2 separate regions of the Homo sapiens genome follow, and region 2 is reported to be linked to region 1. The links are microRNA targets in miRTarBase. Many come from high-throughput screens and were not tested one by one. Region 1 holds a microRNA gene; the other region holds the end of a gene's coding sequence.

Evidence for each region. The annotated mature microRNA hsa-miR-3189-3p reads CCCUUGGGUCUGAUGGGGUAG and lies in region 1 at 2,682-2,702, opposite strand. An mRNA with a match to its seed (bases 2 to 7 or 8) in the 3' UTR can be bound and repressed. Matches are read on the target gene's strand: a 7mer-m8 pairs with bases 2 to 8, a 7mer-A1 pairs with bases 2 to 7 and ends in A, and an 8mer does both.
Region 2: the mRNA of KLHL40 is a reported target of hsa-miR-3189-3p. Seed matches in the 3' UTR shown: 7mer-A1 at 3,773-3,779.

What each region holds. Positions count from the first base shown.
Region 1 is chr19:18,384,925-18,389,308 of GRCh38, reverse strand. MIR3189 (microRNA 3189) reads right to left here and starts at 2,747; the gene lies at 2,675-2,747. GDF15 (growth differentiation factor 15) reads right to left here and starts at 3,151. Exons shown (of 2, transcript NM_004864.4): 1 at 2,843-3,151; 2 at 133-1,023. The coding sequence starts at 3,119. The coding sequence ends at 374. RefSeq lists enhancers at 3,027-3,196, 2,785-3,607.
Region 2 is chr3:42,691,529-42,695,912 of GRCh38, reverse strand. It overlaps KLHL40 (kelch like family member 40), which reads right to left. Exons shown (of 6, transcript NM_152393.4): 6 at 3,369-4,031. The coding sequence ends at 3,920. It overlaps HHATL (hedgehog acyltransferase like), which reads left to right. Exons shown (of 12, transcript NM_020707.4): 10 at 2,095-2,296; 11 at 2,695-2,836; 12 at 3,038-3,250. The coding sequence ends at 3,162. Among named protein-coding and RNA genes, the nearest start is that of KLHL40, 8.2 kb to the right of the region's middle.

The DNA of each region.
Region 1 (4,384 bases):
TCTCCGAGAACACCTTGCCACTCATTCCTTGAGCCTTTCCACTTACCCCCTCCCAGGTCTCCTAGAGAAACTGAGGTCAGGGAGAGGAGGATCTTCTCAAGGTCACCTTCCCTTATCCTGGACACCACAGGGAACAGTTCAGACAGCTTTATTTTTATCACCAGAGTTTTAAATAAATACACAGTTCCATCAGACCAGCCCCCGAGTCCCCAAGAAGGTCACCCCAATAAATTAATAATAAATAACAGACTTATATAAATACAGCTGTTTGGGCAGGAATCGGGTGTCTCAGGAACCTTGAGCCCATTCCACAGGGCAGGACAACTGAGGTCGCGTCCTCCGCGCAGGTGCACAGTGGAAGGACCAGGACTGCTCATATGCAGTGGCAGTCTTTGGCTAACAAGTCATCATAGGTCTGGAGCGACACCCCGGTGTCGGTCTTTTGAATGAGCACCATGGGATTGTAGCTGGCGGGCACGCAGCAGGGCGCTGGCACCGTGTCGGGCTTCAGGCGGTGCAGGCTCGTCTTGATCTGCGCGTGCATGTTTGCCGCCCGGAACTGGCTCGGGCACGCGCCGATGCACATGGTCACTTGCACCTCCCGTGGCGACAGCACCCAATCGGCCCAGCCCAGGTCTTCCAGCGACGCGCGGACCGTGTGCAGACGGCAGCAACGCCCGGGCCCGAGCGGACAGTGGTCCCCGTTGCGCGCACGCGCTCTGCGGCGCCCCCTGGCGGCTTGCGGCCGCAAGTGCAACTCCAGCTGGGGCCGTGCGGACGAAGATTCTGCCAGCAGTTGGTCCGACTGCGACGGCGGCGGCGACAGTCGCAGGTGCAGCGCGGGCGCCTGGGGTCTTGCAAGGCTGAGCTGACGCCGCAGCGGTCGTGTCACGTCCCACGACCTTGACGCCGTCGGGGACAGCCGGAACAGAGCCCGGTGAAGGCGGGAGGCCTCGGGGAGCCCCTCGGGAAGGGCGGCCCGAGAGATACGCAGGTGCAGGTGGCCGCCGGATCCCAGCCGCACTGTGGGAAGACAGATAGGGAAGCTGGTCACCCACAGGCCTACCGTTTTCCAGGAACGAGGGTGCCCATTTCCCCTAACACGCCAAGCTGGATCTCACCACGGCGGCGGCGCCTTTGCACAAGTTATTTCCCCTACCAAGAGCATTTCTCCGTGCGGGCGCGGTGGCTCACGCCTGTAATCCCAGCACTTTGGGAGGCCGATGCAGGTGGATCACTTGAGGTCAGGAGTTCAAGACCAGCCTGGCCGATATGTGGCCAATATGGTGAAACGCCCGCTTCTACTAAAAATACCAAAAATTAGCTGGGCATGGTGGCTGGCGCCTGTGATCCCAGCTACTCGGGAGGCTGAGGCAGAAGAATGGCTTGAATCGGGGCGGTGGAGGTTGCAGTGAGCCAAGATCGTGCCACTGCACTCCAGCCTGGGCAACAGAGGAAGACTCCCTCTCAAAAAAAAAAAAAAAAAAAAAAAAAAGGGCATTTCTCCCCTTGAATCTCCTGAATCTCAGTATGGCTGGCTCCTCCTCTTCCTTCCAGCCTGCCTAAAATAGGAAGCACCCTATTTTATTTCCTTGTGTATCATTCATATTCCCTACTTAGAATCTTAGCTTGGTTGACACTGTGCCTGGCACACAATAGGTGCTTAGTAAATACTTGAAGGAATTAATGTATATCTGATATTCAGGCAGCCTGAGATTCCAACCATGGCTCTGCTTTTCTTCTGGCAGTCAAAAACTTACTTGCTTCACTTATTTATTTATTTATTATGGTCTTGCTGTTACCCAGGCTGGAGTGCAGTGGGGCACTCATGGCTCAGTGCAGCCTCAATCTCCTGGATTCAAGTGCTCCTCCCGCCTCAGCCTCCTGAATAACTGAGACTACAGGCACACACCATCATGTCTGGCTAATTTTTTTTAAACATTTTTGGTAGAGATGGATTCTCGCTATACTGCCCAGGCTGCAATGTTCTGGCCTAAAGCGATGCTCCCACCTTGGCCTCCTAAAGTGCTGGGATTACAGGTGTAATCCCGAGAAATGAAGAGTGCCAAACCCATCACATTCCAGACTACTGAGCCTCTAGGAATCACAGCCCCTCAGGCTGGTACAAGTGTTAGGGAGACTGGGGAGACTGGGGTTTGAGGGTGCCTTAACCTAGTTGCTAGGCTTAGCAAGGGTGAGAGGTTTGCCGGAGTCACACGGCACAGATGGGTTTAGGGCGGGCTAAGAGTGTGCCCCTCTGCCTGCCCCCTCCTGGGTCCCACCACAGCCCAGACCTCATCCAGTGCCCTGCACCCCTGGAGCCTCCATGGAGGGCACAGAGATGGGGAAAATACTCTCCTCCTCCCCTAACAAGTCGCTCGTTGCATGTGACTTTAGCAGTGCCTTGACAAGCGATTTCATCAGATTCAGAACCAGCTCCAGCTGGCTCTGCCCATCACAAACTTCTATCCATGCACCACACCCCCATTGTTTCTCTTGGATCCTGGCCCCAGCCCAGGTCAGGGACCATGCCCACACCGCACGCCCGACCCCGTCCCCGGGTTTCCCAGGTGCTGTGCACATTCAGGAGGGTCCCTGGCATCCCTGTACCTCAGTTTCCCCATTTGCAACTTGGGGACAGGTTATAACCTCCCACGTTGTGGGTGCAAATCAGGCATCGGCTACCCCATCAGACCCAAGGGGATCCAGGATATTCCTACCCAGGGCACAGATGGGGCAACTGAGGCTCAAAGGTAGGTCTGGGCTTTTCAAGATGAGGAATCCCTGATTAGATATGGGGGCTGCTTGGGGGGTGGGAGGGGATCTCTAAGATTTCACTTACCTTCTGGCGTGAGTATCCGGACTGCAGGGGCCGGGACGAGGTCGGTGTTCGAATCTTCCCAGCTCTGGTTGGCCCGCAGCCTGGTTAGCAGGTCCTCGTAGCGTTTCCGCAACTCTCGGAATCTGGAGTCTTCGGAGTGCAACTCTGAGGGTCCCGGGAAACTTGCGCGGCTCGCCTCGGCCAGAGACAGGGCGCCCCCATGCGGCAGCCACGAGAGCACCAGCAACACCAGGAGCATCTGAGAGCCATTCACCGTCCTGAGTTCTTGCCCGGGCATGGCTGTGCAGGTTGCGGCTCTGAGCTGGGACTGACCAGATGCTGCCGGACCGGCCTTTATAGTCCCCGGACTTTGTCCGTCTCCGCCTGCTCAGTCCCGCCCTCCTCCCCCTGCCTGCAGAGTAAACACTCCAATGACCACAGCTGGGCGGGGTCTGGGGGTGTATTTAGGGGGAGGATCTTTAGGTGGGGGCGCTCCTAGTAAAGCTAGGGCACATTTCTGGGCCTCAGTATCCTCTTCCTCGATATGAGGACACCATTCCAGCCTGGGAGTCTTTTTGGAGGAAAAAAAGACATTGTTACTATGTGAAAAATTCCAGACAAGAGTTTAAGAGGTGGCTGTCTATGCCCATGGGATTTCCTCTCTTCTCTTTTTGGTTGGGGTCAAAGGCTAAAGATGGTGAAAAACAAAGGAAGCAGAGGAGAACGGGCTAGATGGAGCCAGGAAGGGCAACCTTGATGTGTCATGCCTCTCTGCCATGCCTGTTTCCTCACCAGGAAAAAAAGGACTGAGACTCTCACTGGAGAGGTGGTCAAATGAGGGGTAAAGCACAGGGCCAGACACATAGGAGGCACTTGATAAACTGGGTGTTATTGCAGTTACTCATCCTCCTCTGGAGAACTCCTACTCATTCTTCAAAACTCTACGCAAAAAGCCCCTCTTCCAGGAAGTCTTCTCCAACATTATCTTTCCAGTCTAAGCAGGGTGCTCCCAAACCCCATCCTTTTGTCTGGCTCAGCGCTCACCTTGAAGCCATCCTCACAGGATTCATAATTCTGGGGGCCAGGCATGGTGGCTTATGTCAGTAATCTCAGCACTTTGGGAGGCCGAGGTGGGTGGATTGTTTGAGCCCAGGAGTTCGAGACAAGTCTGGGCAAGATGGCAATACCTCATCTCTAAAAAAAAGAATTCTGCGCCGGGCACGGTGGCTCTCGCCTGTAATCCCAGCACTTTGGGAGGCCGAGGCACGTGGATCATCTGACGTCAAGAGTTCTAGACTAGCCTGACCAACATGGAGAAACCCTGTCTCTACTAAATATACAAAATTAGCTGGGCTTGGTGGTGGGATTACATGCCTGTAATCCCAGCTACTCGAGAGGCTGAAGCAAGAGAATCGCTTGAACCCAGAGGGCGGAGGTTGCAGTGAGCCAAGTTTTCACCATTGCACTTCCGCCTGATCAACAAGAGCAAAACTCTGTCTCAAAAAAAAAGAATTCTGGACAGAAACTTAGTTATAATTAAGCACTAATCAGGCTGCACTTTGA
Region 2 (4,384 bases), not on the chromosome of region 1:
GAAGAATTATTCAACAGAGAAGCTGGGGATGCAGGATACAGGGGTGATTGATGGAGTGAGGTCCCTGAAGAGGAAGGAGGTGAGGGTGTCTAGTTCCAGGCGGAGGCCTGGCTTCAGTGGGAGGAGGAGGAAGAGAAGCCAGTGTGGATGCAGAGGAAAGCAGGTTAATGTAGACAAGTAAGGGATTCCACCTGAAGGCTTCAGCCTTGTCCATGAAGCAGGAGGCACGGCCATCAGCTGAGAAAGCCAGGACAGGGACGTGGAGAGAGGCAACATATATGCTTACCCCCACAACCCAGCCTGGATCCCCCCACTCATACTATCTCTCCACTCATACTTGTGGGGAGATAAGAATACAGTGGCCCTTGCAGAGCAAGGGAGAAGCAGCTGACTAGAGAAATCTTGGCACTGAGTACCCAGGTGGTATTGGAGGTGGTGGGCTTATGAACTCCAGCATGTGAAGATGTGAGATTTCCCCCATGGGGCTTAGCTGCCTGGGTGTAGCTGAGGAGAAAGTAAGTGATTGGGCTCTCCCAGATGGATGACAAGGAAGAAGTCAGGAATAAGGGTTTTTAGATTATTTATAGTCATGACTCATTGGATATAAGCCTGCTAAGGACGGTGGTGAAGGTGGGAGGGTCACAAGATCAATGGGATTGAAGAACTGAAGCTGGGGGGCCAGGAGGTCAAGAGGAGTTGGGCAAAGAATGGGAATTAGAAAGGAGTGAACTTTCAAGTGGTGACAAAGTTGGGGCATGGCCATGGGTGTGGGTGGCTGAGGTGGAGTGGAGAAAAAGCCATTGGAAATGAGGAGGTCGAGGAATGGAGAGGCTGGTTATTCCTGGGTCTTCCACAGAACTTATTTAACAAATATTTATTGAGCACCTATGTGCCAGGCATTGTTCTAGGCACTGGGGATACAGCAGTGAACATGGCAAAGACCCTGAACTCATGGAGCTTACAGTCTAGTGGGGAGAAACAGACCATAAACAGGTAAACAAACATAAATAAGATAATTTTAGAGAGTGGTAAGTGTTATGAAGAAAATAAAATTGCAATGGGATAGAAGTTGACAACAGGGTAGAAGCTTCTTTAGTCGGGGTCTAGGCAGGCTTCTCTGAGGAGATGATATTTGAATTGAGATTTGAGTGATAAGGAGATGTGGAGCAGAGAATACCAGGTAGAGGGAACAACAAGGGCAAAGGCCTTGAGACACAAACCAACTGTGTGGGTGTAAAGGTAAGAAAGGCCAGTGAGGCCAGCATGATGAACTGGGGGAGCATGGTGGCTGATTTGGTCAGGAAGGGAACAGAAACCAGACCACTTGGGATCTTCTAGCCAGAGTAAAGAGACTGAGTTTATTCCTATTGTAATGGGGAGCTATTCAGAGAGGTTAATCATGGAAGTGATGTGACCTGAGCTACACTCTTAAAAGATGCCTCTGGCTGCTGTGTGGAGAATGAACCATGGGGGCAAAAGCAGAAACAAGAAGACCACTTAAGAGGCTCTTGCAATAATTTATGTGAGAAGAGTGATCATCTTGACTAGGGTGGTGGTGGTAGAGGAGGTGAGTGGTGGTCAGGACTGAGAGGAGCCAACAGAATTTGCTGGCTTGCTTGGATGTGGGTGATGAGGCAAACTGAGAATCCAAGATGGCACCAAGGCTTATACCCTGAGCAACTGAATGGATGGTGGTGCCATTCACTGAGATGAGGACGGAGCTGGGTTTGAGCAGGGATAGGGGAATCTGTCAATCAAGTGACATGGCTAGTAGCAATTGCATATACAAATCAGGAGAGACTGGGCTAAAGACACAGATTTAGGGGTCATCGTCATAGAGCTAGTACTTGAAATCTTGGGTCTGGATGAGATCATTTGGGAAGTAAACGAACAGAGATAGAGAAGCTATAATGTCCCAGGCTGAGCCTGCCACAATTTGAAGTTGGTTGGAGGAGGAGCTGCTACGTGAGGTCAGGAATGTTGAATGCACCCAGGGTGACAGTGTTGAGGAGGACGCCCTGTTGTGTGTCCTCTCCCATCTCATCCCTGCCCTTTCCCACACTCCCAGTGGCCCTTCTCCCATCTTTCCTGCAGATATGTGTATAACCACATTGGTGGGGAGCATTCCGCTGTGATCCCAGAGCTGGCAGCCACAGTGGCCACATTTGCCATCACCACACTGTGGCTTGGGCCTTGTGACATTGTCTACCTGTGGTCATTCCTTAACTGCTTTGGCCTCAACTTTGAGCTCTGGATGCAAAAACTGGCAGAGTGGGGGCCCCTAGCACGAATTGAGGTGAGCAGGGAAGACCTGGGGCTGGGACTGGCTGGGTCATAGAGGGCGGGGGGGCACTGCTGCTTTCTGGAGTTGTCCAAACACCTGGCCCCTAATCCAGAACTTTCTCACCACCACCCTCTTAGTTGTCAGAGCAATGGCTCACTCTGTAGGAATCTGCCCCTCCCTCCCTTCTATGAGGAATGGAGCACCTGGGCCTTGCCATGTTGGTCAGGCCTTGTCCTCTCTCTGGACCTGTTTCCCCATGTTTAACAAGGAGGGAGAGCTGACCTGGGGCTCTCCGAGACCCAGACATAGCCCCAAGACCTGACTGGCCAGGTGGGTAAGGCTGCTGACCCACCATGTCCTCTTTCCTTTGGCCTCTTGTCCCGCTGCCCATGCTTTCCTGGACCGGATAGGCCTCTCTGTCAGTGCAGATGTCCCGTAGGGTCCGGGCCCTGTTTGGAGCCATGAACTTCTGGGCCATCATCATGTACAACCTTGTGAGCCTGAACAGCCTCAAATTCACAGAGCTGGTTGCCCGGCGCCTGCTACTCACAGGTGAGGGACAGGGGTGTGGGGATACAGAAGGTGCCAGGCATCAGCCTCAAGGACCGTGACCTTCCAAAATGCCTCCTATCTCCCTCATCACCCCTGGGACTCAGAAGGGAGGGCCCATCAAGCGGGGAGAGGGGTGGGAAGACAAAAGTCGCTGAGGATGCAGTGCTGCTCCTGAGCATCTATGACTCCCTCCCCACACAGGGTTCCCCCAGACCACGCTGTCCATCCTGTTTGTCACCTACTGTGGCGTCCAGCTGGTAAAGGAGCGTGAGCGAACCTTGGCACTGGAGGAGGAGCAGAAGCAGGACAAAGAGAAGCCGGAGTAGGAGGGAGCGGGTAGAGGGATGGGCTCTGCTCAGCTATTCTTGGGCCAGATGGGGCCTGACCGATAGAATAAAAGACTTTTCTACAACAGCTTGGCTGTTCCCTGACCCTTCTTCCCACAGTCCCCTGGCTCCACGTCCATAGTGGCTGAGGAGCTGGAGGCTCTAGGCCTCAGGCAGGGGAGGGTTCCCACCCATAGGGTGGAGGGGACACCAGATGGAGAGCAGAGACCATCGACCTTGGCAGCCCAACAGCAGAACACTGAAGCCCCAAGTCTTCAACACACCTGCTCACTGACTCTTGGAGCACTGATGCAGACCCTGAGCTGCTTGCTCAGAAGGCACTTTATTCTTCCTAAAGAAGGAGACATATCTGCACTGTACACTGCACTTGATGGGGATGCTCCCATCGGACAGACGAGAAGGCTGAGTCCTGTGGGGAACTTTGCCAGCACACTCAGCTAGGCTGGGGCAGGGCCAGCACACGGCCTGGGATACCGCCCTGTGGTTCTGGTTCATGGATCAAGACAACCTAGGGGGATATGGCAACACTGGAGAAGCCTCTAGTTTCTCACCCTTGCCCAAAAGTCCAGGACTAAGCAGCACTTCCCTTTCCTTGGCTGACGCAGCCCCTGAGGCACCATAACTGGATCCAGGTAGACTCTGGCCTCTCCTAGCCTCTTTTCTGGAGCCCCCACAAGGCCAGGCCAGTGAGGGTCGCAGGATGGGAGGGGTGCTTAGTTCAGTCTGCCTGAGCTGGTCACATCTTAGTCAGGCACAGCACATTGAGCCGCACTGGTAGGAAGGTGGCACCTGCTGCATAGGCGATCTCCCGCAGGACACCCTCCCATTTCTTCTCCTCCTCGTTATACCTGGGGATGAGAGAGAGTGGGGACAAGGATGGAGAGCTTGGTCAGCTGAGTCCAGAGTGGAACGCAGCAGAGAGGGGTGGCTGAGGGCACTTGGCCCATCTCTAGGGAGATCTGCTCCTGAAAATCCCCAGGCTCTGGGAAAGGAGACCCCCCACAAGACCCACCCCAAGGAACACCCACCCCACACTCCAGGAAGGGTCTTTCTCCCCAGGAAAGATCACCTCTCAAGGGGTGTTCCCATATTCCTCAAAGTTCCCCTCCAGGAAGGTCTACACTGCCCACACCACCCCATCAATGTCCTCTCCTTGAGAATTTCCATGCTCCATTTCTACTAAGTCTCACGTCTCAGCCTC